Linked DNA regions of Homo sapiens. The protein of the gene in region 3 purifies or fractionates together with the protein of the main gene of each other region. This does not show direct contact. Each region holds a gene or a part of one and is shown on either strand. Other genes may lie near its edges. The genes, in order: ARPC1B, ARPC1A, ACTR3B and ARPC4.

Region 1 (7,024 bases), about 53 Mb from region 3:
GAGCCCCTGCAGACCGGCCACCTCCCTTCTCCCCGTCTGAGCAGTGTGGGGGAAGACCAGGGCTCTGGGCACGGCAGGGCCAACTGCCATGTGCTGGACACCTTTCTAGGTGGTTTATGAGATTACTTCATTTCTTTTTTTTTTTTTTTTTTCTGAGATGAGTCTTGCTCTGTCACCCAGCCTCCTGAGTAGTGGGGATTACAGGCAGGTGCCACCACACCTGGCTAATTTTTTTTTTTTTTTTTTTTTTTTTTTTTGAGACGGAGTCTCACTCTGTCGCCCAGGCTGGAGTGCAGTGGTGCGATCTCGGCTTACTGCAAGCCCCGCCTCCCAAGTTCACGCCATTCTCCTGCCTCAGGCTGGGACTACAGGTGCCCGCCACCACACCCGACTAATTTTTTGTAGTTTTAGTAAAGACGGAGTTTCACCATGTTGGCCAGGCTGGTCTTGAACTCCTGGCCGCAAGTGATCCGCCTGCCTCGATCTCCCAAAGTGTTGGGATTACAGGCATGAGCCACCGGGCCTGGCCTGGATGACTTCATCTTCATCCCATCCTTAATGGGGCAGGGGAAGTTGGGTGGGGGGGGGGGGGTCGTCCATCCTATGAGGAAACCGAGGCACAGATGACAAGTGAGGGGCCTGTCCAGCTTGGAGTCCTAGCACCCCACCCCGCCCCAGGGAGCATCTCCCCTGTAGTACCGTCTCCTCCACCCTGTCCCTGGAGCCTCAGAGACATCCTGTGAAAGCTGCCCTTTTATAAGGAGGGAAACTGAGGCCCCAGGAGGGGAAGCAACATGTCAGGCCAGTTGGGAGCCAGGGCTGGCCCCTGCTGCTCCTCTCTGCAAACTGCTGCCCCTCTAAACTGAGGGGCCTCCCTGGTGTGAGGCCTGTGAGGATCATCTGGGGCCTGGTATGGGTGAAGTCAGGGGCAAGGTTGGGGCTGACGTGGATTCTCTCTTCCTCTCTCGGGCACAGGAGCCAAGCCGCCATGGCCTACCACAGCTTCCTGGTGGAGCCCATCAGCTGCCACGCCTGGAACAAGGACCGCACCCGTGAGTGCTTGCTGGGGGCCGGTGGGTGGCTGCTTCCACCTCCTGGGATGGGGACCAGCCAGAGCACACATGGGGACTCTGGAGCAGCCAGGCCCCCGGACCATGGGCTCCATGTGGCTGTCCCCTGGCCTCACCCCTGGGTCTTCCAGCTGACCAGGGGCCTCCTGGGTTAAAGTTTAAGGAGGGAATGGGCCAGTTGCGGTAGCTCATGCCTGTAATCCCGGCACTTTGGGAGGCTGAGGTGGGTGGATCACTTGAGGTCAGGAGTTCCAGACCAGCTTGGGCAACATGGTGAAACCCTGTCTCTACTAAAAATACAAAAATTACCTGGGCGTGGTGGTGGGTGTCTGTAATCCCAGCTACTCGGGGGGCTGAGGCACGAGAATTGCTTGAACCCAGGAGGCGGAGGTTGCAGTGAGTCGAGATTGCACCACTGCACTCCAGCCTGGGCAACAAAGCGAGACTCTGTCTCAAAAAAAAAAAAAGAGAGAAAGAAAGAAAGAAAAAGTGACCAAGAAAAAGCCTTTCGGAGGAGATGACATTTTGACATTTACCCAGAGACCCAGAGGGGGAGAGGAAGGGAACTGTGCCCCAGCTGGGGAGGGGCTGGCAGGTGCAGGGGCCCTGAGGTGTCAGCAGGAGCAGCGAAGGGTTCCTGGTTGGCCAGAGCAATAGGGTGGGGAGAGGTCCCAGGGTTCATTGCTGCGAGTAAAGGACAGCCAGTTCCAGGAGAAGACAGGGTGGCCTAGCAGGGCCTGAAGGACTTCAGGGGGCCCCTGCAAGGCAGAAGAGGAGAGACTGAGTCATGAAAGGTGAGGTGTTGTTGCCTAGGTGCACTGTGTAGTGTGTCCTGGCAGAGGGCAGTCATGGAGAGGGCCCCTCAATCTCCCTCCATCTCCCCTTCAGAGATTGCCATCTGCCCCAACAACCATGAGGTGCATATCTATGAAAAGAGCGGTGCCAAATGGACCAAGGTGCACGAGCTCAAGGAGCACAACGGGCAGGTGACAGGTATGTCAGGGTGGCTGGGACCACCGTCCTGAAAGGAGGTGGTGGGTTGGGGGGGTGGTGCAAGGCAGGGCATGGCCACTCATTGTGGAGCATCTGCCCACTCACCGTGAAACCCGGATTCAAACTGGCTTCAATTTTAAGGGGACTGTGTTGGCTCATGTTACCAAAAACTCACAGGGTTGAGGGCTTCAGGAGAGGCTTGATCCAGCAGCTCCACATGACCAAGAACCCATCTTTTCTGCCTCTTGGCTTTGCCCTCCAGCATGTTTGCTGATAGCATGGAGGGCTCTGACACTCCCTCATAAGCTCTAGGAGTGCCCCCTGGTGTCACTCTAAATAAGCACTGGATCTCAGTAAAAAGTGCTTGCTGGGCCGGGTGCAGTGGCTCATGCCTGTAATCCCAGCACTTCAGGAGGCCAAGGCGAGTGGATCGCTTGAGGTCAGGAGTTCGAGACCATCCTGGCCAACATGACTAAATGTTGAAAAATACAGAAATTAGCCGGGTGTGGTGGCACGCACCTGTAGTCCCAGATACTCTGGAGGCTGAGGCAGAAGAATCGCTTGAACCCAGGAGGCGGAGGTTGAAGTGAGCTGAGATTGCACCACTGCACTCCAGCCTGGATGGCAGAGCGAGACTGTGTCGCAATAAAAACAAAGAAAGAAAGAGGCCGGGTGCGGTGGCTTGCGCCTGTACTCCCAGCACTTTGGGAGGCGGAGGCGGGCGGATCACCTGAGGTCAGGAGTTCAAGACCAGCCTGGTCAACATGGTGAAACCTCATCTCTACTAAAATACAAAAATTAGCCAGGCATGATGGCGGGTGCCTGTAATCCCAGCTACTTGGGAGGCTGATATGTGAGAATTGCTTGAACCCGGAAGATGGTGGTTCCAGTGAGCTGAGATCGTGCCAGTGCACTCCAGCTTGGGCGGCTGAGCGAGACTCTGTCTCAAAAAAAAAAAAAAAAAAAAAAGATTGGTGGTACACACCTGTAGTCCCGGCTACTCAGGAGGCTGAGGCACGAGGATTGCTTGAACCTGGGAGGCAGAGGCTGCAGTGAGCTGAGATCATGCCACTGCACTCCAGCCTGGGTGACAGAGCGAGACTCTGTTTCAAAAAAAAAAAAAAGTGCCTGCTGGGCAGATACAGCTTCCACCTGGATGGTGGCCTTTCAGCCTCTCCCATGTGGCCACCATACAGCCACCTCTGCCTGAGTGTCATCAGCCTCCTGTGTTCCCTCCATCCCCCCACAGGCATCGACTGGGCCCCCGAGAGTAACCGTATTGTGACCTGCGGCACAGACCGCAACGCCTACGTGTGGACGCTGAAGGGCCGCACATGGAAGCCCACGCTGGTCATCCTGCGGATCAACCGGGCTGCCCGCTGCGTGCGCTGGGCCCCCAACGAGAACAAGTTTGCTGTGGGCAGCGGCTCTCGTGTGATCTCCATCTGTTATTTCGAGCAGGAGAATGACTGGTGGGTACCTAGGCAGGGCCAGAGTGGGCTGTTAGGGACCGGGGGCAGGACTAGAGTGTCCCCGGGAAGCACCAAATGGGATGTCAGGACCCCTGTTCCCATCACCCTGGGGGAGTCCATCCTCTCCTCTCTGGGCCTCATTCATGAGGCAAGGGCCTCTCTGCAGCGTCCGGATGTTCTCACTGCCAGTGACACCCACCACACCAGAAACACATCTGGGGGCACCTCACTAAGCCCTGCACACACATTAGTCCTGACTTCCCTGCAGCTCCGTGGACTGGGCATCGGTCACTGTCCCCACTTTACAGATTAGCAAAGGCCCTGTAGCAGTCACTTTCTCAAGGCACCACTCACGAGCTCGCAGCCACATCTTGTTCCTTTTTTTTTTTTCAGATGGAGTCTCACTCTGTCACCCAGGCTGGAGTGCAGTGGCACGATCTTGGCTCACGGCAGCCTCTGCCTGCCGGGTTCGAGCAGTTCTCTGCCTCAGCCTCCCAAGTAGCTGGGATTACAGGCACCTGCTACCATGCCCGGATAATTTTTATATTTTTAGTAGAGATGGGGTTTCACCATCTTGGCCAGGTTGGTCTAGAACTTCTGACCTCATGATCCACCCGCCTCGGCCTCCCAAAGTGTTGGGATTACAGGCGTGAGCCACCGTGCCCAGCCAATTTTTTTTTTTTTTTTTTTTTTGAGACACAGTCTTGCTCTGTCGTCCAGGCTGGAGTGCAGTGGCACAATCTCAGCTCACCGCAACCTCTGCCTCCCAGGTTCAAGCAATTCTCCTGCCTCAGCCTACTGAGTAGCTGGGACTACAGGCACGCACCACCACGCCAGGCTAATTTTGTATTTTTTAGTAGAGATGGGGTTTCTCCATGTTGGTCAGGCTGGTCTTGAACTCCTGACCTCAGGTGGTCCTCCTGCCTCCGCCTCCCAAAGTGCTGGGATTACAGGCGTGAACCACTGCGCCCGGCCATATATATATTTTTGAGACAAGGTCTTGCTCTGTCGCTCAGGCTGGAGTGCAGTGTTGTGATCATAGCTCACTGCAGCCTCAGCCTCCTGAGCTCAAGTAATCCTACCACTTCAGCCTCCTGAGTAGCTCGGACTACAGGCCCAAATCATTTATTTATTTATTTTGTAGAGATAGGGTCTTGTCACGTTGTCCAGGCTGGTCTTGAACTCCTGGCCTCAAGCAATCTTCCCACCTCAGCCTCCCAAAGTGCTGAGACTACAGGTGTGAGCCATGATTGCCAGTCCACGTCTTAGTTTTTAATCTCCCCTGCATGGCTGAGGGCAGAGGCCAGCCAGGAGCATCTGAGAGACCCAAATTTGCATCCCACCATGGCCAGTTAGTAGTTGTGTGACCTCTGGTGATGGCATCACTTTGCTGAGCCTGCTCTGAGGGTGACTGTGTGGCCTAAAGGATAGAGGGCACAGAGTTCCCACTCCAGAAGCGACACAGCACATCCCTGCCGCCCCAGGGCCCTGACGGCCTTGTGGGCTGGCAATGCCCAGTCGCCTCTCTCCTGGGTCTTTGGTGGGCTGCAGGGAGCAGTGGGAGCCTGGAGTCCCTGGTGCTGAGGTCCATGAGTCCCACCTGCCTGTCCCTCTCTCCCTGTCTGCCTGACCACCGTTCCCAGGTGGGTTTGCAAGCACATCAAGAAGCCCATCCGCTCCACCGTCCTCAGCCTGGACTGGCACCCCAACAATGTGCTGCTGGCTGCCGGCTCCTGTGACTTCAAGTGTCGGTGAGACAGGGCGCCATGGGGGAGGGCGGGGCTGACGTCAACTGACTGCTGACATCATAGCGGGGAGCCGCACCTGAAAGCTCTACACCCCAGCTTCTAGACACATTCCAGACCTGCTACCAGTGGATGACCTGGGCGTCGGTTGAAGGTTCTAGTTCCTGGGGAACCCTTCATGTCTCAGCTGGATGGGCCTCTGCCCACCTCTTTTATTTTTTTTGAGCTAGGGGCTTGCTCTGTTGCCCGGGCTGGAATGCAGTAGTGCAATCATAGCTCACTGCAGCCTCCAAATCCTGGACTCAAGCGATCCTCTTGCTTCTCAGCCTCCCAAGCAAGACTACCACGCCCAGCTAGACAGGATTTTTTTTTTTTTTTTGGAGACGGACTCTCGCTCTTTCGCCCAGGCTGGAGTGCAGTGGCGTGATATTGACTCACTGCAACCTCCGCCTGCTGAGTTCAAGCGATCAAGCGATTCTCCTGCCTTAGCCTCCTGAGTAGCTGGAACTACAGGCGCATGCCACCATGCCCGGCTAATTTTTGTATTTTTAAATGTAGAGACGGGTTTTCACCATGTTGGCCAGACTGGTCTCGAACCCCTGACTTCAAGTGATGCATCTGCCTCAGCCTCCCAAAGTGCTGGGATTACAAGCTTCAGCCACCATGCCCAGGCACCTGTTAACCCTTTAAAAAAAATTTTTTTTTTTTTTTGAGACAGTCTCACTCTGTTGCCCAAACTGGAGCACAGTAGCGCAATCACAGCTCACTGCAGCCTTGACCTCCTGGGTTCAAGCAATCCTCCCGCCTCAGCCTCCTGAGTAGCTGAGAGTACAGGTGCGCACCACCATGCCTGGCTACTTTACCTCTACTTTGCCTATCCCGGTAGGATCTTTTCAGCCTACATCAAGGAGGTGGAGGAACGGCCGGCACCCACCCCGTGGGGCTCCAAGATGCCCTTTGGGGAACTGATGTTCGAATCCAGCAGTAGCTGCGGCTGGGTACATGGCGTCTGTTTCTCAGCCAGCGGGAGCCGCGTGGCCTGGGTAAGCCACGACAGCACCGTCTGCCTGGCTGATGCCGACAAGAAGATGGCGTGAGTCGAGGCCATCCCCAGGGGAGGAGGTGAGTGCAGAGGAGTGGGACACCGTGACTCACAGCTCTCTCCCCTCAGCGTCGCGACTCTGGCCTCTGAAACACTACCACTGCTGGCGCTGACCTTCATCACAGACAACAGCCTGGTGGCAGCGGTGAGGAATAGGGAGGGGAGGGAGGGTGTGTGGTCACAGCAGGCCTCCGAGAGAGCCCAGCAACTCTCATCTCCTCCCTCCTTTCTCCTGCCTCCCTCCTTTTTTTCTTCCTTGCATTCTCTCATGTACCAGAATTGGGCAGAACAGGTTGGGTTATGCTGCAGTAACCAAAAGTCCCTGGCTGCAGTTGCTTAACAGAGTAAAGATTTGGCCAGGTGCGGTGGCTCACACTTAAAATCCCAGCACTTTGCGAGGTTGAGGTGGAAGTATCACTGGAGGCCACGAGTTTGAGACCAGCCCGGGCAACACAGTGTGAGACCCTTGTCTCTACAAAAAGTTAAGAAATTAGCTGGGTGTGGTGGTGCACCTGTAATCTCATAATCCCAGTTACTTGGGAGGCTGAGGCAGGAGGATAACTTAAGCATGGGAGGTCGAGGCTTCTGAACTGAGCTATGGTCGTACCTCTGCACTTCAGCCTCGGCGACACAAAACCTGTC
Region 2 (7,024 bases), about 53 Mb from region 3:
AGAGCGAGACTCCATCTCAAAAAAAAGAAAGAAAAAAAGAAAGATTGTCCCTTCCATTATAAAATGTAGTCTTTCAGAAGATTTCCCTACATAAACAGGCACTTATATATCTTTTCATTTTTAACAGAAATAAGATTATTTTATACATTTTTATATACATTTGGTAATTTGCCTTTTAATACTTGATAATACTTTTGTATTTTGATGCCAGTGTTACTTGATTTTTATATGGTTTATTGTGACACAGTAAGTTCTTAGCATACACTTATTACAAGTCCCTGTCTACCCTCGTACTGACTTCTTTCCCTTTTCCAGTCCTGCAAGTCAGATTACATGCTCCACCTTTCCACTCCTCCAACATAAATATCTCATGTAGTAAAAGTCAGGTATACCGCACTAAGGGCTTAAGATGACACATTAGTTCTTCAATTCAATGCCAACTTTATGAAGGGTGTCCTGAGACATATACAGTTAGCTTTTTTTTATTTTTTAATTTAGAGAGACACTCTCTGTCGCCCAGGCTGGAACTCCTGAGCTCAAGTTCTCCTCCCACCTCAGCCTCTCAAGCAGCTGGAGCCACAGACGTGCACCACCACTCTAGGCTAATTTTTTTTTTTTTTTAATTTTTCGTAGAGACTGGGTCTCACTATGTTGTCCAGGCTGATCTCAAACTCCTGCCTCCAGCAATCCTTCCACCTCAGCCCCTCAAAGTGCTGAGATTACAGGTGTGAGCCACCATGCCCAGCCACAGTCAGCTTTTGAATGCATCGTTTCTTGCATGAAGTGAGGTGCTCCTAACTCATCAGCCAGTGTGTCTGCCTGCCATATCTGTGTAATCTCTTTGCCACATTCAAGAGCAAATAACTACATGCACACACATGTCCCTGCAGGCACACATACACACACATGGCCCATTCGAGTGTGAGCTCCTGGCTAAGACCGTTTGGTTCATCTTGGTAGCTCTAGCTCCTAACACAGTGCCTGGCCGTCAGCACAGATCTGTGTGGTCACAGCCCTCTCGGAGCTCCGGTGAGCACAGGCAAGGAGAAGGTCCTAGCACAGGTGTCTGCTGCCAAGTCATAGTAACAGGAAGAGCTCTAGGAGCTAAGAGCAGGGAGAAGCCACTTTAGGCGGAAGTGGCCCGGGAAAGTGGACCGTGGGATCATGGGGGTGATCCCTTTAGAGCTGTGCTGGGGGTGGAAGGGCGTGATGCAAAGACTGGGCTTTGGGAACCAGTTTGTCGTCAGTGGGCAGGGCCTCAGAAGGAGGCAGAGCCGGAACCCAGGGCTGCCCCTGTCTTGAGAGGCCTGCAAGTTGAGGTCAGGGGCTCCTTTTCAACATAAGTGCCCATTGATACTGCAGAAGCCCCTGTGAGAATGGGTCCTTTGTGATCATCTGTGTCTGTAAAGAAGCTAATAGTCTGTTGCATCTTGGGATAACACATGTTCTTGTGTTCAGGGTCTCGACTCTGAAGACAGAGTTCCTGCCGCTCCTAAGTGTGTCATTTGTCTCAGAGAACAGCGTCGTGGCTGCTGTGAGTATTTTTCTTCATTCTCCCTCGGGGTGCACTGTATGTGATGCTCAGACAGGGAACAATGTGTGCTCTGTCACCCTAGCACAAAGCAGAACAGTTTTTTAGAAGAAACAGAGCTCACTTTTTTTTTTTTTTTTTTTTTTGAGATGGAGTTTTGCTCTTGTTGCCCAGGCTGGAGTGCAATGGGTGATCTTGACTCACCGCAACCTCTGCCTCCCGGGTTCAAGCGATTCTCCCGCCTCAGCCTCTCGAGGAACTGGGAATATAGGCATGCGCCACCATACCTGGCTAATTTTGTATTTTTAGAAGAGACGGGGTTTCTCCATGTTGGTCAGGCCGGTCTCGAACTCCCATCCTCAGGTGATCCACCCACCTTGGCCTCCCAAAGTGCGGGCATGAGCCACCGTGCCCGGCCTCAGAGGTCACTTTTTTTTTGGAGACTGTCTTGCTCTGTCGCCCAGGCTGGAGGGCAGTGGCGCAATTTTGGCTCACTGCAAGCTCCGCCTCCCGGGTTCACGCCATTCTCCTGCCTCAGCGTCCTGAGTAGCTGGGACTACAGGCGCCCGCCACCTCGCCGGGCTAATTTTTTTTATTTTTAGTAGAGATGGGGTTTCACCATGTTAGCCAGGATGGTCTCAATCTCCTGACCTCGTGATCCGCCCACCTTGGCCTCCTAAAGTGCTGGGATTACAGGTGTGAGCCACCGTGCCCGGCCGCTCACTTTTAAGAGTAAGAGGGGGTGGGGCACGATGGCTCACGCCTGTAGTCCCAGCACTTTGGGAGGCCAAGGCGGGTGGTTCACTTGAGGTCAGGAGTTCAAGACCAGCCTGGCCAACATGGTGAAACCCCGTCTCTACTAAAAACACAAAAATTAGCCAGGCATGGTGGCAGACGCCTGTAATCCCAGCTACTTGGGAGGCTGAGGCAGGAGAATTACTTGAACCCGGGAAGCAGAGGTTGTGGTGACCTGAGATTGTGCCACTGCACTCTAGCCAGGGCAACAGAGCAAGACTCGGTCTCAAAAAAAAAAAAAAAAAAGAGTAAGAGAGGCCTGTCGTGGTGAACACTCTGCCAAGGAGGTGGGCGGTGGGCAGTGCATCCTCCAGGGACTGACTGAGTCTTGTTTCAGGGCCATGACTGCTGCCCAATGCTCTTTAACTACGATGACCGCGGCTGCCTGACCTTCGTCTCCAAGTTAGATATTCCAAAACAGAGCATCCAACGCAACATGTCTGCCATGGAACGCTTCCGCAACATGGACAAGAGAGCCACAACTGAGGACCGCAACACGGCCTTGGAGACGCTGCACCAGAATAGCATCACGTAGGTGCCGTCTGTAGAGAGGTGGTCAGGTGACAAGGTGCCTTCCTGCCCCTCGCTGTTTCCTTACTGGGTTCCTACAAAAGCTCTATGCCCCTCAGGCCCAGACATTCTTTCAGGGACAAGTGCAGCAAGAAGTCTGTATCTTCCCGACCGCCAGGCTCTCATTTCCAGCTCGTGGTAGGGAGGGAGTCGCCACCACCTGGTCATTCTGTCCTTCAAGGTGCAGATTACAAGGCAGCAGCCAGCAGGAGCAGTGCAGACCTTGTTGCAATCTGAGGTGGTGGGGCCTCAGGGCAGCTGCTTCCTAGGGTACCCTTTCTCAGCTACTCGAGAACAAAAGGAGACATTCCTGAATGCTGCGTTCCCACAGTAGTGCACACATAACAGAAAGCGAAGTTACAGCCTGTTGGAAAAGGTAACTGTAGCTGTCGTTTCAAGTAATGGATACAAATAAGAAGATTATTTAATTAAAGGAACAGAATTTCTTATCATCATGATGACAAAGCTGAGGAGTGTCTCGACTGGGTTTTCATCAGGTATATGTAATTATGTAAGACAACAGAATTGTGTTTTGTCCAGAAAGTTTAATTTTTTTTTTTTTTTTTGAGACAGAGTCTCACTCTGTTGCCCAGGCTGGAGTGCAATGCCACAATCTCGGCTCACTGCAACCTCTGCCTCCCGGGTTCAAGCAATTCTCCTGCCTCAGCTTCCCAAGAAGCTGGGATTACAGGCGTGTGCCACCACACCTGGCTAATTTTTTGTATTTTTAGTAGAGACGGAGTTTCACCCTGTTGGCCATCCTGGTTTCAAACTCCTGACCTCAGGTGATCCAACCACCTCAGCCTCCCAAATTGCTGGAATTACAGGCGTAAGCTACCGTGCCTGGCCTGAAAGTTTGATTTTTAAGGTCTAGAGGAGAGGCTGGGCATGATGGCTTACACCTTTAATCCCAGCACTTTGGGAGGCTGAGGCAGGCAGATCACTTGAGGTCAGGAGTTCGAGACCAGCCTTGCCAACATGGCAAAACCCCATCTCTACTAAAAAATACAAAAATTAGCTTGGCATGGTGGTACACACCTGTAATCCCAGCTACTCGGCAGGCTGAGGCAGGAGAATTGCTTGAACCGGGCAGGTGGAGGTTGCAGTGAGCCAAGATTGAGCTACTGCACTCCCGCCTGGGTGACAGAGTGAGACTCCGTCTCAAAAAAAAAAAAAAAAAAAGGCACCTGGAGGAGAAATATATGCTTGATATTCTAAATTACTGTGTTCAGAGTTGGGTCCCATGGGATTTTCCCTTACTGAGAAGCCTTTTATGTTTAGAATCTTATTGTGGTATTGATGGTGGGAGAAGTAATGGAAACCTCTAGACTTCCTGTTTGAGAGAATTACAATGAAATGCAGGTTGTGCTTCATCTTCAGCGGAGAAGGGGCAGCTGTATATAAAATAGGCTGCAAATGCTGTATTGAAAAATGAGAACCAGAGACCTGGCACCATGTCTCACACCTGTAATGCTAGCGTTTTGGGAAGCCAAGGCAGGAGGATCACTTGAGGCCAGCAGTTCAATACCATCCTGGGCAACACAGCAAGACCCCATCTCTACAAAAAAATTTTTAAGTTAGCTGGCTGTGTTGGCACGCACCTGTAGTCCCAGCTACTTGGGAGGAGTGAGCTGTGATTGTGCCACTGTACTTCAGCCTGGGCTACATTGTGAGATCCTATCTCAAAAAAAAAAAAAAAAAAGAACCTGAAGGCATAGCAAAACTTACCTTTTCTCCACATTCTTCAGGTTTCTCCTTCTATAGCAAAACTCACCTTTTCTCCATTCTTTAGGTTTCTCTGTCTTGAATGGCTCCGAGTTACTTCTTGTGAGTTTCTCTTACGTTTCTATACAGACCAAGTGTTAAGGAAAGAAAAAGCTCTCATTGCCTCTCTGACACTTCTAGATGAAAAATGAAAAGAACAAACCCTTGCTGATTAGTCTACTTTTATTTGCAGAAATTAGGTGCTCTTTGCACTAGAACTGTGTCAGCTAACTTTTTCTGTAAAGGACCAGATAGTAAATATTTTAGACTCCTAGAGGCCATAGGTCTCTGTTGCAACTACTGAACTCTGGTTGTGGCAGGAAAGCAGGCACAGATGATGTAAACAGATGAGGTGGCTGTGTTCCCGTCAAACTTTATGGACACTCAAATTTGAATTTCATGTAATTTTCACTTCATGAAATAATAGTCTCCTTTTAATTTTTTTCCAGCTATTTAAAAACGTAAAAGCCGGGTCAGGTGCAGAGGCTCACGCCTGTAATCCCAGCACTTTGGGAGGCTGGGGTGGGCGGATCACTTGAGGTCAGGTGGTCAAGACCAGCCTGACCAACATGGCAAAACCCCGTCTCTATTAAAAATACAAAAATTCGCCAGCCTGGTGGCAGGTGCTTGTAATCCCAGCTACTCGGGAGTCTGAGGCAGGAGAATCGCTTGAACCTGGGAGGTAGAGGTTGCAGTGAGCCGAGATCGCACCACTGCACTCCAGCCTGAGTGACAGAGTGAGACTCCATCTCAATAAATAAATAAATAAAATAAAAATGTAAAACCCCGCCCCCCTTTTTTTTTTTTTTTTTGAGATGGAGTCTCTGTCACCCAGGCTGGAGTGCAGTGGCACGATCTTGGCTTACTGCAAGCTCTGCCTCCTGGGTTCACGCCCTTCTCCTGCCTCAGCCTCCCAAGTAGCTGGGACTACAGGCGCCCGCCACCATGCCTGGCTAATTTTTTTTTTTTTTTTGTATCTTTTAGTAGAGACAGAGTTTCACTGTGTTAGTCAGGATGGTCTCGATCTCCTGACCTCGTGATCTGCCCACCTCGGCCTCCCAGAGTGCTGGGATTACAGGCGTGAGCCACTGCACCTGGCCTTTGTTGTTTTTTTTTTTTATTTAAGCTCACAGGCTGTACGGGCATAGGCAGTGTGTGCCATAGTTTGCCATCCCCTTCCCAGCGTCGGGGAAGAGGCGGGTAAGTTCTAGACATCTCAAAGGAGAAAGAAAAATATTGTCTGAGCAATGGATGATTGTCTTGAAAGCTTCCAGATAATTAGGCTAAGACAAGTTGTTTCATTTATCTGTTCCCCTGCTTAGCTTGGTCGGAATCTAGTGGTGTGTCTGCTGCTAACATTTATGATGATTCACTTCAGACTCAAGGAGGGCTGTTGGCTTATCTGCACTGGCTGTCTTGGAGGCTGATTTGAGAGGTTTTGTTTGGAGCTATGGAATTCAGTCATGCTTCATCATGCCTCTGGTTTATTTAAAAACAAACAAAAATACTGTTTTCGCCATGGCTGTGGTCCTACCCACAACCTGCTCCCAGCATTTGAGTGCTGTGTGGGCTGGGTCATTCCTGCTTCCCCAGGTCACGCTAACCAAGGCAAGTTCTTAACTTCTCCCCTTGCCAGTTTTGTCTTTCCTGGACATCTGGTAATAATATGCTTTGGGGTATTTTCTGAGCCAGATTGTTGCAGCCTAATGTTCATGGATAAGTTCATAATCAGGAGTTAAAAGATAATTCATTTCCTGGTGGAGCGTGGTGGCTTATGCCTGTAATCCCAGCATTTTGGGAGACTGAGGCAGGAGGATCACTTGAGCCCAGGAGTTCAAGACCAGCTTGGGCAACATAATGAGACCCGCATCCCAGCTCTATTTAAAAAATAAAGAAGAAGATAATTCATTTCCTTAAGCTGCCCTTACACTATTAGTCAGGAATGTTTGTGTTCACTTCCACTACATACCTTACGATCTCTTTTGCTTTGCTTTTTTTCAGTCAAGTCTCTATTTATGAGGTGGACAAGCAAGATTGTCGCAAATTTTGCACTACTGGCATCGATGGAGCCATGACAATTTGGGATTTCAAGGTATTTTCTACCTAACAGAACAAATTTTGTTTGTGTTAAAACTTTTTTTTTTTTTTTTAAGAGATAGGCTCCTTCTCTGTCACCCAGGTTGGAGTAAGTGGCACAATCATGGCTCACTGCAGCCACCAACTCCTTGCCTCCAGCAGCCCTCCCACCTCAGCCTCCCAAGCTGCTGGGACAGCAGGCATGCACCACCATGCTCCGTGAATATTTTTACAAAACTCTTATGAGAAGAATGTTTCTCATTTCTTGAAACAAAATGTTAAATCTAG
Region 3 (7,024 bases):
ACTATATATAATGATAACAATTAGACAAAAATACAGTCTGCCCTAAAGTGCACCAAAAAAGATATTAATAAAATAAAATGGACTACATGGCAAAAGATGTTTAAATACATATATATGTAAATATTGCAAAACTGAGGCCAAATATATCAATCATATCAATACATATAAATATGCTTAAATCACCTATCTATGAGTATAAATGAGCTTAAGTCATCCAACAAAAGGCAACATTTTCATATTGACTAAAAAGCAAAACAATATTTTGGGTACAGACAATTCAGAAAGAATAATAAAAGGATGGAGAAATATATATATATCTATATCAGACAAACACAAGGAGAAGCAAGCAGGGATCACACATCTTGATATCTGACAAAGTACAACTCGGCTGAGAAAACAATTAGAAGGCTACTTGATATGCTAAATCAACAACTCTAGTGAAGAGACAAGTTATTTCTATCTAGATAACCAATATGGCAGCAACAACTTTCATAAAGCAGAACCCACAGAAAATGCGAGGAGACCTTAATAGGTTACTAACAATAGGAGGCCTTAGTATGCCATTCTCAGTCCATGACAGACTAGGTACACACACACACAAAAATGTGAGCCCAGACATGGTGGCTCACCCCTGTAATCCCAGCACTTTAGGAGGCAGAGGCGGGTGGATCACCTGAGGTCAGGAGTTCGAGACCAGCCTAGCCAACATGGAGAAACCCCGTCTCTACTAAAAACACAAAAATTAGCCAGGCATGGTGGCGGGTGCCTATAATCCCAGCTCCTCGGGAGGCTGAGGCAAAGAACTGCCTGAACCCAGGAGGTGGAGGTTGCAGTGAGCCGACATCACGCCACTGCACTCCAGCCTGTACGACAGAAGGAGACTCGGTCTCAATTAAAAAAAAAAATTGGAAGCCCTAAATAACATAATTAATAAGGTAGTTCATATAGACACATTAAACTCAGAACTTATAAAGATTGTATCTCCTAGCCAGGCGCGGTGGCTCATGCCTGTAATCCCAGCACTTTGAGGGGCCAAGGTGGGTGGCTCACCTGAGGTCAGGGGTTCGAGACCAGCCTGGCCAACATGGTGGAACCCCGTCTCTACTAAATATAAAAAATTAGCTGGGCGTGATGGCGGGCGCCTGTAATTGCAGCTACTTGAGAGGCTGAGGCAGGAGAATTGCTTGAATCCAGGAGGTGGAGGTTGCAGTGAGCCGAGATCGCTCCATTGCACTCCAGCCTGGGCAACAAGAGTGAAACTCTGACTCAAAAAAATGAATACAAAGAACATTCGCAAACCCTCTTAGGCCACAATAAGTGAAAACAAACAAACAAACAAACAAACACCAGAACTATCCCACTAAAATCAGGAATAAAATAATAATGCCCACTAACTCCACTCTGATTTAAATTAACATTGCTTTGGAGGTAATGGCCTCTGCACTGTGTCAATAAAAAAGCAGTTAAGAGTCCCTAAAAATGGAAAGGAAGAGGTAAAACAATCTCTTTTGCCAATAACAGGTTTTGGTTTTTATTTTTGAGACAGCGTCTGGCTCTGTTGCCCAGGCTGGAGTACAGTGGCTCAATCTCAGCTCACTGCAACCTCCGCCTCCCAGGTTCAAACGAGTCTCCTGCCTCAACCTCCCATGTAGCTGGGATTACAGGCGTGTGCCACCACGCCCAGCTAATTTTTTTGTATTTTTAGAAGAGACAGGGTTTTGCCATGTTGGCCAAGCTGGTCTCAAATTCCTGGCCTCAAGTGATCTGCCTGCTTCGGCCTCGCAAAGTGCTTGCAATTACAGGTGTGAGCCACTGCGCCAGGCCCAATGACAAGTTTTTATATCTGAAAATCCCTAGGGATCAAGGGAAAAATTTATACAAATAATATGAGCATTCTGTAAAGCAGCACGTTATAAAATGAGTAACTACCATGAAAAACCACCATGTAATCTAGGAATGAAAAAACTAACAATCTTCATATATTCAAGAAAAACAAGATAAAATGGAAGAGAAGGCACCATTTATGATAGCAAAAAAAAATCAAATACATAAAGTTAACAAGAAATCTACCTGCAGAAACACCACAATATTCCTAAAAGACACAAAATAGACTTGAACTAATGGAGAGATAAACCATGTTCTTTGATGGGAAGACTCAGTATTATACAGATAATGATGCTCATTAAATTAATTTTTAAGTTTAATAAAATCCCAATAAAAATGCCATCAGGCTTTCTCTCCCAGAACTAGAGAAACTGATTACAAAGATCACTTGGAGGAACAACAATCGAAAATACATGGGAAAGCCCTAAAAAGGAATTAGATGGGCAGGGGAAGCCGGCACCATTAGAAATGAAATCATTCTAAAGAGCCTAATTAAAACTGTGTGGTGCTGCTATTATGAACAGACCAATAGACTAACTCAACACAATACAAAATCCAGAAAGAAACACAATTGCATAGACAAATGCAGCATATGATAAAGGCAGCATCTCCAGTCATTGGGTTTTTTCCATAAATTATGTTGAGATAAACAGGACAGCCATAGCCACACACACACAAAAGTGGATCCAACTGGGTCCATTCTTCATACCTTATCTCAGGATAAATTCCAAATGAATTAGAGATTTAAATGAAAAAAATGAAACCATTAAAAAAAAAAAAAAAACCTACCAGCTGGGCACAGTGGCTCACATCTATAATCCCAGCACTTTGGGAGGCCGAGGCAGGTGGATCACCTGAGGTCAGGAGTTTGAGATCAGCCTGACCAATATGGTAAAACCCCCTTCTCTACTAAAAATACAAAAATTAGCCCGATGTGGTGGCATGCACCTGTAGTCCCAGCTACTCGGGAGGCTGCAGCAGGAGAATCGCTTGAACCCAGGAGGTGGAGGTTGCACTGAGTGGAGACTGTGCCGCCGCACTCTAGCATGGGCAACAGAGTGAGACTCTGTCTCAAAAAAACAGAAAAGAAAAAGAAGAAAAGAAACCACCATGTAATCTGGGAATGAAAAAAACCTTTCTTAACTATGACTCAAAATCTAGAAACAATAAAGAAAAGATGAATAAATCCGATTGCCTAAAGAAAACAAACTTTGCATGGTAAAAGACAAATGATAAATAGGGGAAATATATTTGCAACGTATATCATTAAGGGTTAATATTCTCTATGTGCAGAAGAAAGTTAATGGGCCTGAGACTGCTGTCTCTTAGAAAGTCCTGCTTGGAGGAATGGCCTTTAATTGGTATCTAGGATCTTGGAGTTCAGGCGTTCCCACCATTCCCTAAATGCTAAAAGTAGTTCACTGCTCCTAGAGTGGCAAACAACGTGGTTTATGCCAATGCCTTGCTTTCCTTCTGGGACTCTGGAATTCCGGCACGTGCTATGCACAGGGTGCCTGCATGACAAGTCCCCAGTGAAAACCTTGGGCCCTGTGTCTCTGAGGAGCTTCCCTGGTACGGAGCATTGCACACGTGTTGTCACAGCCTGATGCTGGAGGAATTAACTGCATCCTGCACGGCTGCACTGGGTGAGGACTCGGGAAGCTTGCCCCGGTTTCCTCTAGGCTCCACCCCACATCTTTTCCCTTGGCTGTTTTTGCTTTGTACATTTTCACCGTAGTCCTGATTCCTCCTAGCAAGTCACTGGAACTGGGAGTGGTCTGCGGAACCCCTGAACAGACCTTAATACATGAAGAGCTTCTAAAAATGAAGAAGCAAAAGACCAAAACCCCAGAGAAAAGTTAGAGAAATGAAGAGACCGAAAAAAATAAATGCGAAGATTATCATAATCATGAAAGTGGGTTGTTAAAATATGAAGTTCAGCCTTCTCTCGTGCTCACAATCTCACCCACTCTTGCCCTTCCTTCTTCCGCCATGGGATGACACAGCACGCAGGGCCTCATTAGATGCTGGCACCATGCTCTAAGACTCTGCAGCCTCCAGAACTGTGAGCCAAATAAACTTTTTTTTTTCTTTTTTTAAGGTGTGCACTTTTACTGAACTGGTCTCAAGTCAGTGTACAGGTATGCCCTGGATGCCTCCACACTTCCACCCACTCCCAGGGAGACCAAAAGCCTTCATACATCTCAAGGTAGGGACAAAAATGGGGACCATGATAGCTGATTATTCAAAATAAAACAAAAAGTATTAAGGTGAAGATTTTTTTAAATGTTGCATTACATAATTTACATGAAAGCAATCCTGTAACCTCCCCTTTGTGGACTCAGGAGAGAACTGGGCCGTTCTCCTGAGAGAAGTGGGGTGGCTTTTGGGAGGGCAAGGGACTTCCTGTAACAATGCATCTCACAATATGTGGAATGACTATTTAAAAAAAAAAAAAAAAAGCCAGGCGCAGTGGCTCATGGCTGTAATCTCAGCACTTTGGGAGGCCCAGGCAGGCAGATCACCTGAGGTCAGGAGTTCAAGACTGGCCTGACCAACATGGAGAAACCCCGTCTCTATTAAAAATACAAAATTAGCCGGGCATAGTGGCGCATGCCTGTAATCCCAGCTACTTGGGAGGCTGAGGCAGGAGAATCACTTGAACCCGGGAGGCGGAGGTTGTGGTGAGCCAAGATCGCGCCATTCTACTCCAGCCTGAACAATGAAAGCAAAACTCTGTCTCCGGAAAAAAAAAAAAAAAAAAAAAAGGGCCAGGGTAAGACCCAGTCTCAAAACAAAAATAAAAATAAATAAGTAAAATAAAGAACAATGTACAATCAAGGTCCTCGGCCACACTGTAGAACTTTGGAGGATGCTCACTCCAACTAACTGCTGTCACCTTCACCATTCTATTCTTTTCTTTATAAATTACCCGGTGTGTGGTATTCTGTTACAGCAACACAAAACAAAGACATTAAGATATCATTTATTCTAGGTTGGTAATTTTACAAATTGGCAATAGGCTCTATTGGTGAGTCTGTAAGACACAGGCATCCTCACACATTACTGGTGAGAATGCACACTAATGAGTGTAATTTGACACTGCCTAGCAAAATTACATATGCATTTGCCCTTTGACCCAGAAATCCCATTTCTAAAAATCTAAGCCACAGATACTCAGGCAAAAAATACAAAAAGATATCCTTGCTTTATTTTTTCTTTTTTTTTTTTTTTGAGATGGAGTCTCGCTGTTGCCAGGCTGGAGTGCAGTGGCGCGATCTCAGCTCACTGCAACCTCCGCCTCCTGGTTCAAGCGATCCTCCTGCCTCAGCCTCCTGAGTAGCTAGGACTACTAAAATTAGCCCACCAGTGTGCCCGGCTAATTTTTTTGTATTTCTTTTTTTTTTTAGTAGAGACGGGGTTTCACCGTGTTAGCCAGGATGGTCTCGATCTCCTGACCACGGGTCGTGATCCACATCCTCGGCCTCCCAAAGTGCTGGGACTACAGGTGTGAGCCACTGCGCCTGGCCAGAATGCTCAAAAAATGAAGACATGTCTAAAGAACATGGAAGGCCAGGTGCAGTGCCTCACTCCTGTAATCCCAACACCTTGGGAGGCAGAGGTGGGCAGATCACCTGAGGTTAGGAGTTCAAGACCAGCCTGGCCAACATGACAAAACCCCATCTCTACTAAAAATACAAAAAAACAGCCATGCGTGGTGGTGTACACCTATAATCCCAGCTACTCAGGAGGCTGGGGCAGGAGAATCGCTTGAACCCGGGAGGCAGAGGTTGTAGTGAGCTGAAGTCACACCACTGCACTTCAGCCTGGGCAACACAGCAAGACTCCGTCTCAAAAAATAAATAAATAAAAAATAAAGAACATGGGAGTCAGCCTGAATGAGCTTCACTTGGCAAAATCTGGGACAATTTAAGCAATAGATAACCCACTGACAACAATGAGGACGGCATAATGGATTATCATTCTTTGAACAGAACGACAACTCATACAGACAATAAACAAATGAGGCCTATGGATAAGTTCTTCCTTAAAATAAAATGTTAACTAATAAATGGAGACAGAATAATAGAGTTCAAAAATCACCATTTTGCAACCATCACCATAATTAGTAATTCAGGCAAGAATCACCAATGGGCCAGGCACAGTGGCTCACGCCTGTAATCACAGCACTTTGGGAGGCCAAGGCGGGTGGATTGCTTGAGATCAGGATTCAAGACCAGCTTGGGCAACATGATGAAATCCCGTCTCTACCAAAAATACAAAAAGTTAGCCGGGCATGGTGGCTCATGCCTGTAATCCCAGCTACCCATGAGGCTGAAGCAGGAGAATTCCCTGAACCTGGGAGACAGAGGTTGCAGTGAGCAGAGATTGTGCCACTGCACTCCAGCCTAGGAAACAGAACAAGATTCTGTCAAAAAAAAAGAAAAAAACAAGAGTCACCAATGGATACTTAAACTAATGGATGAAAGTTTAAGAATAGAGTACTTACATAAAATATTCCCCCACAAATGACTTTTTTTTTTTTTTTTTTTTTTTTTTTTTTGAGATGGAGTCTCGCTCTGTCACCAGGCTGGAGTGCAGTGGCCCGATCTCGGCTCACTGCAACTTCCGCCTCTCGGATTCAAGTGATTCTCCTGAGCAGCCTCCAAAGCAGCTGGGACTACAGGCACGCACCACCACACCCAGCTAATTTTTGTATTTTTAGTAGAGACGGGGTTTCACCATGTTGGCCAGGTTGGTCTCGAACTCCTGCCCTCAGGTGATCCGCCCGCCTCGGCCTCCCAAAGTGCTGGGATTACAGGCATGAGCCACCGCGCCCAGCCAAATGACTTATTAATTACAAAGAAAAATAGTAACTGAACAGTGAAGAAACCTCGTGGACATCACCCTCTCCAAATGATCCAAGTGAACTTCATCAAGACTGAGGCGAGTCCCTATCTTAAGCCTTTCGATGGGATGCACTAAGAAGGATCAACAGGACTTCTGTGGTAGTCCTGACAAATATGCATATCCTGTATCTATCACAGAGAAACACTAGGTAACAACTGGCTGTCAAAAATGCCAACATCTTGAAAGACAAAAAAAGGTTAAGAAATTATTCCAGATTAAATTAGACTTA
Region 4 (7,024 bases), on a different chromosome or scaffold from region 3:
CCTGGACAACAGAGTAAGACTCTGTCTCAAAAAAAAATAAAAAAGGCCAGGCACGTTGGCTCACGCCTGTAATCCCAACACTTTGAGAGGCCGAGGTGGGCGGATTGCCTGAGGTCAGGATTTCAAGACAAGCCTGACCAACACGGTGAAACTCCGTCTCTACTAAAAATACAAAAATTAGCCAGGCATGGTGATGTGCGCCTGTAATCCCAGCTACTCGGGAGGCTGAAGCAGGAGAATCGCTTTAACCCAGGAGGCGGCGATTGCCGTGAGCAGAGATCGTGCCACTGCACTCCAGCGAGGGTGACAGAAGCGAGACTCCCTCTCAAAAATAAATATTAAGAAGACATGAAAGACATTTTTTTGTCAATTGTAATAAATACTTTATAGGGGGATGTCAAGGTCTCTCTCAAGAGGCCTTCCTTAATTAAGCTGAGATCTGGAGGATGACTTAGGCAAAGAAAGAGGAGAAAAGCCTACAGATAGATGGTCAAGCATGTGTAAAGCTCTGAGGTGGGAAAGAATTTGGCTGATACAAGGACTGACCAGTGCAGCTAGAAGCTAATCCCTCTCCTAAGAATGTCCTTATTCTGGCAGGGTGTGGTGGCTCACGCCTGTAAACCCAGCACTTTGGGAGGCCAAGGCGGGCAGATTACAAGGTCAGGAGATTGAGACCATCCTGGCTAACACCGTGAAACCCTGTCTCTACTAAAAATACAAAAAGTTAGCCGGGTGTGGTGGTGGGCGCCTGTAGTCCCAGCTACTTGGGAGGCTGAGGCAGGAGAAGGGCATGAACCCGGGAGGTGGAGCTTGCAGTGAGCCGAGATCGTGCCACCGCGCTCCAGCCTGGGCAACAGAGCGAGACTCTGTCTCAAAAAAAAAAAAAAAAAAAGAATGTCCTTATTCTCCTTTTTCTCCTCCTAATCCCATTTCACCTTCAAAACCAGTTTCTTCTGCAAATATAGATTACTTGTAAATCTAAATATTTCACATGTCATCTTTATATCATAGTTATTTTCTGTATATTTGCTATCCAGTTGAGCTGTTTGAGGGTAGAGACAGTGTTAATCATCTTTGAATTCCCAGTTAGCTCAGTGCGTGGCAAACAGTACACCTATACATTTGTTGGCCTAATAGATTGACGACAATCATGCATTCACTGGTGTGTCTCTAGATCACTTTCTCAACCTTAGCACTATTGATATTTGAGTCTCGATAATTCTTTGTAGTGCATTGTAGTATGTTTAGTGGATATCTGTCCACTGAATGCCTGCAGTTCCCCTTCTTGCCAAGTCATGACAATTGAAAATGTCTCAGCATTCCTCTGGTCTGACCCCAGGTTAAAAAAGAAAGAAAGGAAATGTCTCGACATTACCAAATGTACCCTGGCAGGCAAAATTGTCTCCTGTTGAAAACTACCACTCTACACCTTGGAAGGCGTCTCGAAGGCCTAGTCTGTTCTGTTCACAGTAGTGTCTTAAGAGCCTTGCACCCTCAGTGCTACCTGGCTTCATGGGAGCTGGAATAGGGGATCGGTGGGTTTGGCGTGACAGATTTTGATCTTCCCTTTCCTCTGTGTTATTTCCTATAGACTGCCACTCTCCGCCCCTACCTGAGTGCCGTGCGGGCCACATTGCAGGCTGCCCTCTGCCTGGAGAACTTCTCCTCCCAGGTTGTGGAACGACACAACAAGCCGGAAGTGGAAGTCAGGTAGGGAAGGACAAGTCAAGGTGGGGATGAGGGGTGCAGCACACAGAGATGGCTGCTGTCTAGAAGGTGCCATGAACTTATGTCCTGCAGTAGTCAGGAAAGCTGCAGTTGACATTTTGTCTTGCTGCCAGCTGAATGGTGATTCCCAATTTGGAGTTAAGAAAATAGGGTCAGTGGGTTGGCAGGACAGAACCCAGGGGAAAAGACAAGATTGGTTAACACAAGGTATGACTTCTCAGAGCAGGGCTGTTGATGAAGTCTCTCCTGTGGCATTGTTGAAAACACTGGTAGTTTAAGGAATGGTCAGATAATTGTTATCTGAGATTCCATCTCCATACTTTTCTTTTTTTTTTTTTTTTTTCCCATCTCCATACTTTTCTAATGTAATGATCAGGGATTTTTTTTTTACCTACCAGCCTAGACACTCTGACCCCCTAATCCAAATACTTCATATTTTGAATGATTTTCTCTTATCTAGTTTCCATTTCATAAATATCTTTTTCCCCTTTAAAATTTAATCTGGAGGCCTGGTGCAGTGGTTCACCCCTGTAATCCGAGCACTTTAGGAGGCTGAAGTGGGTAGATCGCTTGAGTACAGGAGTTCAAGACCAGCCTGGGCAACATGGCAAGACTCCATCTCTACCAAAAAAATATGCAAAAATAGTCAGGCATGGTGGCACATGCCTGTAGTCCCACTTCTCTGGAGGCTGAGGCAGGAGGATCTCTTGAGCCTGGGAAGCAGAGGTTGCAATGAGCCAACATTGCGACAGTGCACTCCAGCCTGGGTGAGACCCTGTCTCAAAAAATAAGTAAATAGGCCGGGCACAGTGGCTCACGCCTGTAATCCCAGCACTTTGGGAGGCCGAGGCAGACAGATTATGAGGTCAAGAGATCGAGAGCATCCTGGCCAACATGGTGAAACCTTGTCTCTACTAAAAATACAAAAATAAGCTGGGCATGGTGGTATGCACCTGTAGTCCCAGCTACTCGGGAGGCTGAGGCAGGAGAATTGCTTGAACCTGGGAGGCGGAGGTTGCAGTGAGCCAAGATCGTGCCACCGCACTCCAGCCTGGCAGCAGAGCAAGACTTCGTCTCAAAAATAAAATAAAATAAAATAAAATAAAATAAAATTCATTCTGGTACATACATAACTGAGATAATCTGGGTTACAACATTAAATGATACGATTTAATTTTTAATTTTAAAAATAACTGATAAAGATGTTAGGATATGCCCTGTTATACTGTGTAACGTACACGATTTCCAGTGGGCCTTTGAAAATGGTTAGCAGTTTAGAGACACCACACCACAATTAATTACTATTAGAGATCTCTAGGTATTCAGAGGCATTACTTTGTAACCTGAACTCATAGGGGTCTCAGAGGCAAATGAATCATTTCTGGATTGATAATTAAAGGAAGCCAAACTGTGTTCAATTTTAGCCTTTCCTTACCTCTAAGACAGGTGTTCTCTCTGTATTCCTAAATGGTATATTGGTTTGCCTGTACAGGTTGAGTATCTCTTATCCAAAATGCTTGGGACCAAAAGTATTTCAGATTGTGGAATATTTGCAGATACTTAACCAGTTGAGCATCCCTAATTCCAAATCCAAAATGCTCCAATGAGGATCTCCTTTGAGCATCTTGTCAGCACTCGGAAACTTTCAGGTTTTTTTTTTTTTTTGAGATGGAGTTTGATTCTGTCACCCAGGCTGGAGTACAGTGGTATGATCTTGGCTCACTGCAACTGCCACCTCCTGAGTTCGAGCAATTCTCGTGCTTCAGCCTCCTGAGTATCTGGGATTATAGGAGTGCGCCACCATGCCCAGCTAATTTTTATATTTTTAGTACAAATGGGATATCACCATGTTGGCCAGGCTGGTCTCGAACTCCTGACCTCAGGTGATCCACCAGCCTCAGCCTCTCAAAGTGCTGGGATTACAGGCATGAGCCACTGTGCCCAGCCAGTTTCAGATTTTGGATTTCAGATTTGCAGATTGGGGATGTTCAACTTGTAGTTACTAAAATAGCTATCTTTTGTAAAGCTCCTACTATGTGCCAGGCACGCTATTAGACATTTGACCCTTTTTGATCTCTCTCAGTCCTCGCCAGTGAATTAGGAATCAGAGTCATTTTACAGATGAGAAAATTGAGATTCCAACAGGGTAACTTGCCCAAGGAAAGTAACAGAGGAGGCTGGATTTCAAAACCTTTTCGCCCTGACTTCAGAGCCTGTGCTCTTTCTGCTGAAGAACACACTCACTGGCCCCCATCTTGGAGCACTCCTGCTTGTGAGTCTTCTATTCCTTGGACTCTATGGTCTCATAGTGATTCCAGGACCTGCGTGGGGTCACTCTGACTATTCTATCCCTCTGTAGTACAAGTACTCTGTCACATTATGTTTTCAGGAGTAGCAAAGAGCTCCTGTTACAACCTGTGACCATCAGCAGGAATGAGAAGGAAAAGGTTCTGATTGAGGGCTCCATCAACTCTGTCCGGGTCAGCATTGCTGTGAAACAGGTAAGTTCACCATGGAGGAGGCCCAACGTAAGGCCTCTTTCAGTCCTTTCAGCCTCTTTCAGTCCGGGGTCCCCATCTGAGAGATCAGTGTGCCAGATTCCAGATTCAGAGTGCAGGAAACCTAGCCTCTGCTTCCTTTTTTTTTGACACGGATTCTCACTCTTGTCGCCCAGGCTGGAGTGCAGCAGCATGATCTCAGCTCACTGCAACCTCTGCCTCCCGGGTTCAAGCAGTTCTTCTGTCTCAGTCTCCCAAGTAGCTGGGATTACAGGCATCCGCCACCACGCCCAGTTAATTTTTGTATTTTTAGTAGAGACAGAGTTTCACCATGTTTGCCAGGATGGTCTCCATCTCCTGACCGCAGGTGATGGGCCCGCCTCAACCTCCCAAAGTACTGGGATTACAGTCATGAGCCACCATGCCTGGCCAGTAGAGGGCAACTCTAAACTTTCAACAGGATGAAAACGAAGCACTGTTATTAAATGCAGACTACACACTGTTTTCTACAGAAACTTATAAACCTGGGGCCTGCTTTCCTTGCTAAAATGGGAGGTTAACAAGTGTTGAGAGGTGTTAAGGGCATGCTAGCAACCAGCAGCAATAATCTTCCTTTAGAAATGTTGAGAGTTCAGGGCCAGGCACAGTGGCTCATGCCTGTAATCCCAGCACTTTGGGAGACCAAGGCGGGTGGATCACTTGATGTCAGGAGTTCAAGACCAGCCTGGCCAACATGGTAAAACCCTGTCTCTACTAAAAATACAGAAATTAGCCAGGCGTGGTGGCACGCGCCTGTAATCCCAGCTACTTGGGAGGCTGAGGCAGGAGAATCGCTTGAACCCGGGAGGCAGAGCTTACAGTGAGTCAAAATCGTACCACTGCACTCCAGCCTGGGTGACAGAGCGAGATTCCATCTCAGAAAAAAAAAAAAAAAAAAAAAAAAAGAAATGTTGAGCATTCAGAAGGGAGAAACTTCAGGGATTGTTGGATGTTCAGTGTTATTAAAGCAGAGACCACCTAAGGTTATCTCTGATAGCCCAGGTGATGCTGCAAAACACCCTGGGAAATGTGACACTAGTGAAATGAGAATGGAAAGGGCAGCTTGGAGTACAGCTGTAGACTCTGAAAGAAGCAATAGAAGCCTGTCAGAATTACCTCTCTGGAATGGGTCGTCATTAAGAGATGCCCCAAGGTAGACCCTTGTTTCAGTTGACAGCCAGGTCCCCCACTTCAGTGATCCTTCCGAGTACCAAACCTCACTGTCTCCTGGGAGCCTTGAAAAAACTGGAGTCAGAAGACCAGGCTACAAGGTGTTTTTGGCCTTGGGTGTCAGCTTTAGAGAAACATTTCTCTCTTGCACTCCCCAGGCTGATGAGATCGAGAAGATTTTGTGCCACAAGTTCATGCGCTTCATGATGATGCGAGCAGAGAACTTCTTTATCCTTCGAAGGAAGCCTGTGGAGGTGAGACCCTGTGACCCATGAGTTTGCGATACCCAGGACCCTGTTACAGAATGGCCTGGGATTGTTTCTAGAACCAGCTACTCCAGCTGTTTGGCACCCACTGCCTGAATTGAGAGTTGGCCTTCATCTTGGAGTGGGAGCAAAGAGGATTAGAAGCTTAGGAAAAGTTGGGTCTACCTCAGCCATAGAAAAGGCAAAAAAGAGCCGGGCGTGGTGGCTCATGCCTCTAATCCCAACACTTTGGGAGGCCGAGGTGGGTGGATCATGAGGTCAGGAGTTCAAGACCAGCCTGGCCAACATGGTGAAACCCCATCTCTATTAAAAATACAAAAATTAGCTGGGCATGGTGGTGGGCGCCTGTAATCCTAGCTACTCAGGAGGCTGAGGCAGAGAACTGGTTGAACCTGGGAGGCGGAGGTTGTAGTGAGCCAAGATCGTGCCACTGTACTGCAGCCTGGGCGACAGAGCAAGACTCCGTCTCAAAAAAAAAAAAAAAAAAAAAAAAGGCAAAAAAGATAAGACACATTGCTTATTCCCGGAGCCTATAGTCTAGCATCAGAAAGAGCACAGTGAATTAGAAATCCTTTCTAAGATCTGCCAAATGAATCATAGTCTCTCTCTCTTTTTTTTTTTCTTTGAGACGGAGTCTCGCTCTGTCGCCCAGGCTGGAGTGCAGTGGCACAATCTTGGCTCACTGCAAGCTCCGCCTCCCGGGTTCACGCCATTCTCCTGCCTCAGCCTCCTGAGTAGCTGGGACTACAGGCGCCCACCACCACACCTGGCTAATTTTTTGTATTTTTAGTAGAGACGGGGTTTCACCATGTTAGCCAGGATGGTCTCGATCTCCTGACCTCGTGATCTGCCTGCCTCGGCCTCCCAAAGTGCTGGGATTACAGGCTTGAGCCACCGCGCCTGGCCTTTTTTTTTCTTTTTTTGAGATGGAGTTTTGCTTTTGTTGCCCAGGCTGGAGTGCAGTGGCGCAGTCTCACTGACTGCAACCTTCCACCTCCCAGGTCAAGTGATTCTCCTGCCTCAGCCTCCCGAGTAGCTGGGATTATAGGCACGCATGTGCTACCATGCCCAGCTAATTTTGTATTTTTAGTAGTTTCATTGTGTTGGCTAGGCGGTCTCAAACTCCTGACCTCAGGTGATCCGCCTGCCTCGGCCTCCCAAAGTGAATCATAGTCTGCAATCTGGGCTCACTGCAAGCTCCGCCTCCTGGGTTCACGCCATTCTTCTGCCTCAGCCTCCCGAGTAGCTGGGACTACAGGTGCCCGCCACCATTCCCGGCTAATTTTTTGTATTTTTAGTAGAGACGGGGTTTCACTGTGTTAG

Evidence for each region.
Region 1: the proteins of ACTR3B (region 3) and ARPC1B purify together in Homo sapiens (affinity purification with mass spectrometry; 7 studies listed by BioGRID and IntAct, with this or other methods). This does not show direct contact.
Region 2: the proteins of ACTR3B (region 3) and ARPC1A purify together in Homo sapiens (affinity purification with mass spectrometry; 7 studies listed by BioGRID and IntAct, with this or other methods). This does not show direct contact.
Region 4: the proteins of ACTR3B (region 3) and ARPC4 purify together in Homo sapiens (affinity purification with mass spectrometry; 6 studies listed by BioGRID and IntAct, with this or other methods). This does not show direct contact.

What each region holds. Positions count from the first base shown.
Region 1 is NC_000007.14:99,384,727-99,391,750, forward strand, and holds part of ARPC1B (actin-related protein 2/3 complex subunit 1B), read left to right. Parts: intron 1-975; 5' UTR 976-988; coding exon 989-1,052; intron 1,053-1,958; coding exon 1,959-2,063; intron 2,064-3,312; coding exon 3,313-3,535; intron 3,536-5,178; coding exon 5,179-5,286; intron 5,287-6,166; coding exon 6,167-6,373; intron 6,374-6,451; coding exon 6,452-6,527; intron 6,528-7,024. UniProt on the Homo sapiens protein: Component of the Arp2/3 complex, a multiprotein complex that mediates actin polymerization upon stimulation by nucleation-promoting factor (NPF).
Region 2 is NC_000007.14:99,356,882-99,363,905, forward strand, and holds part of ARPC1A (actin-related protein 2/3 complex subunit 1A), read left to right. Parts: intron 1-1,458; coding exon 1,459-1,534; intron 1,535-2,663; coding exon 2,664-2,857; intron 2,858-6,661; coding exon 6,662-6,752; intron 6,753-7,024. UniProt on the Homo sapiens protein: Probably functions as a component of the Arp2/3 complex which is involved in regulation of actin polymerization and together with an activating nucleation-promoting factor (NPF) mediates the formation of branched actin networks.
Region 3 is NC_000007.14:152,762,738-152,769,761, reverse strand, and holds part of ACTR3B (actin-related protein 3B), read right to left. Parts: intron 1-7,024. UniProt on the Homo sapiens protein: Plays a role in the organization of the actin cytoskeleton.
Region 4 is NC_000003.12:9,796,068-9,803,091, forward strand, and holds part of ARPC4 (actin-related protein 2/3 complex subunit 4), read left to right. Parts: intron 1-1,591; coding exon 1,592-1,710; intron 1,711-4,117; coding exon 4,118-4,229; intron 4,230-5,593; coding exon 5,594-5,689; intron 5,690-7,024. Other genes in the region: ARPC4-TTLL3 fusion protein, read left to right, coding at 1,592-1,710, 4,118-4,229, 5,594-5,689. UniProt on the Homo sapiens protein: Actin-binding component of the Arp2/3 complex, a multiprotein complex that mediates actin polymerization upon stimulation by nucleation-promoting factor (NPF).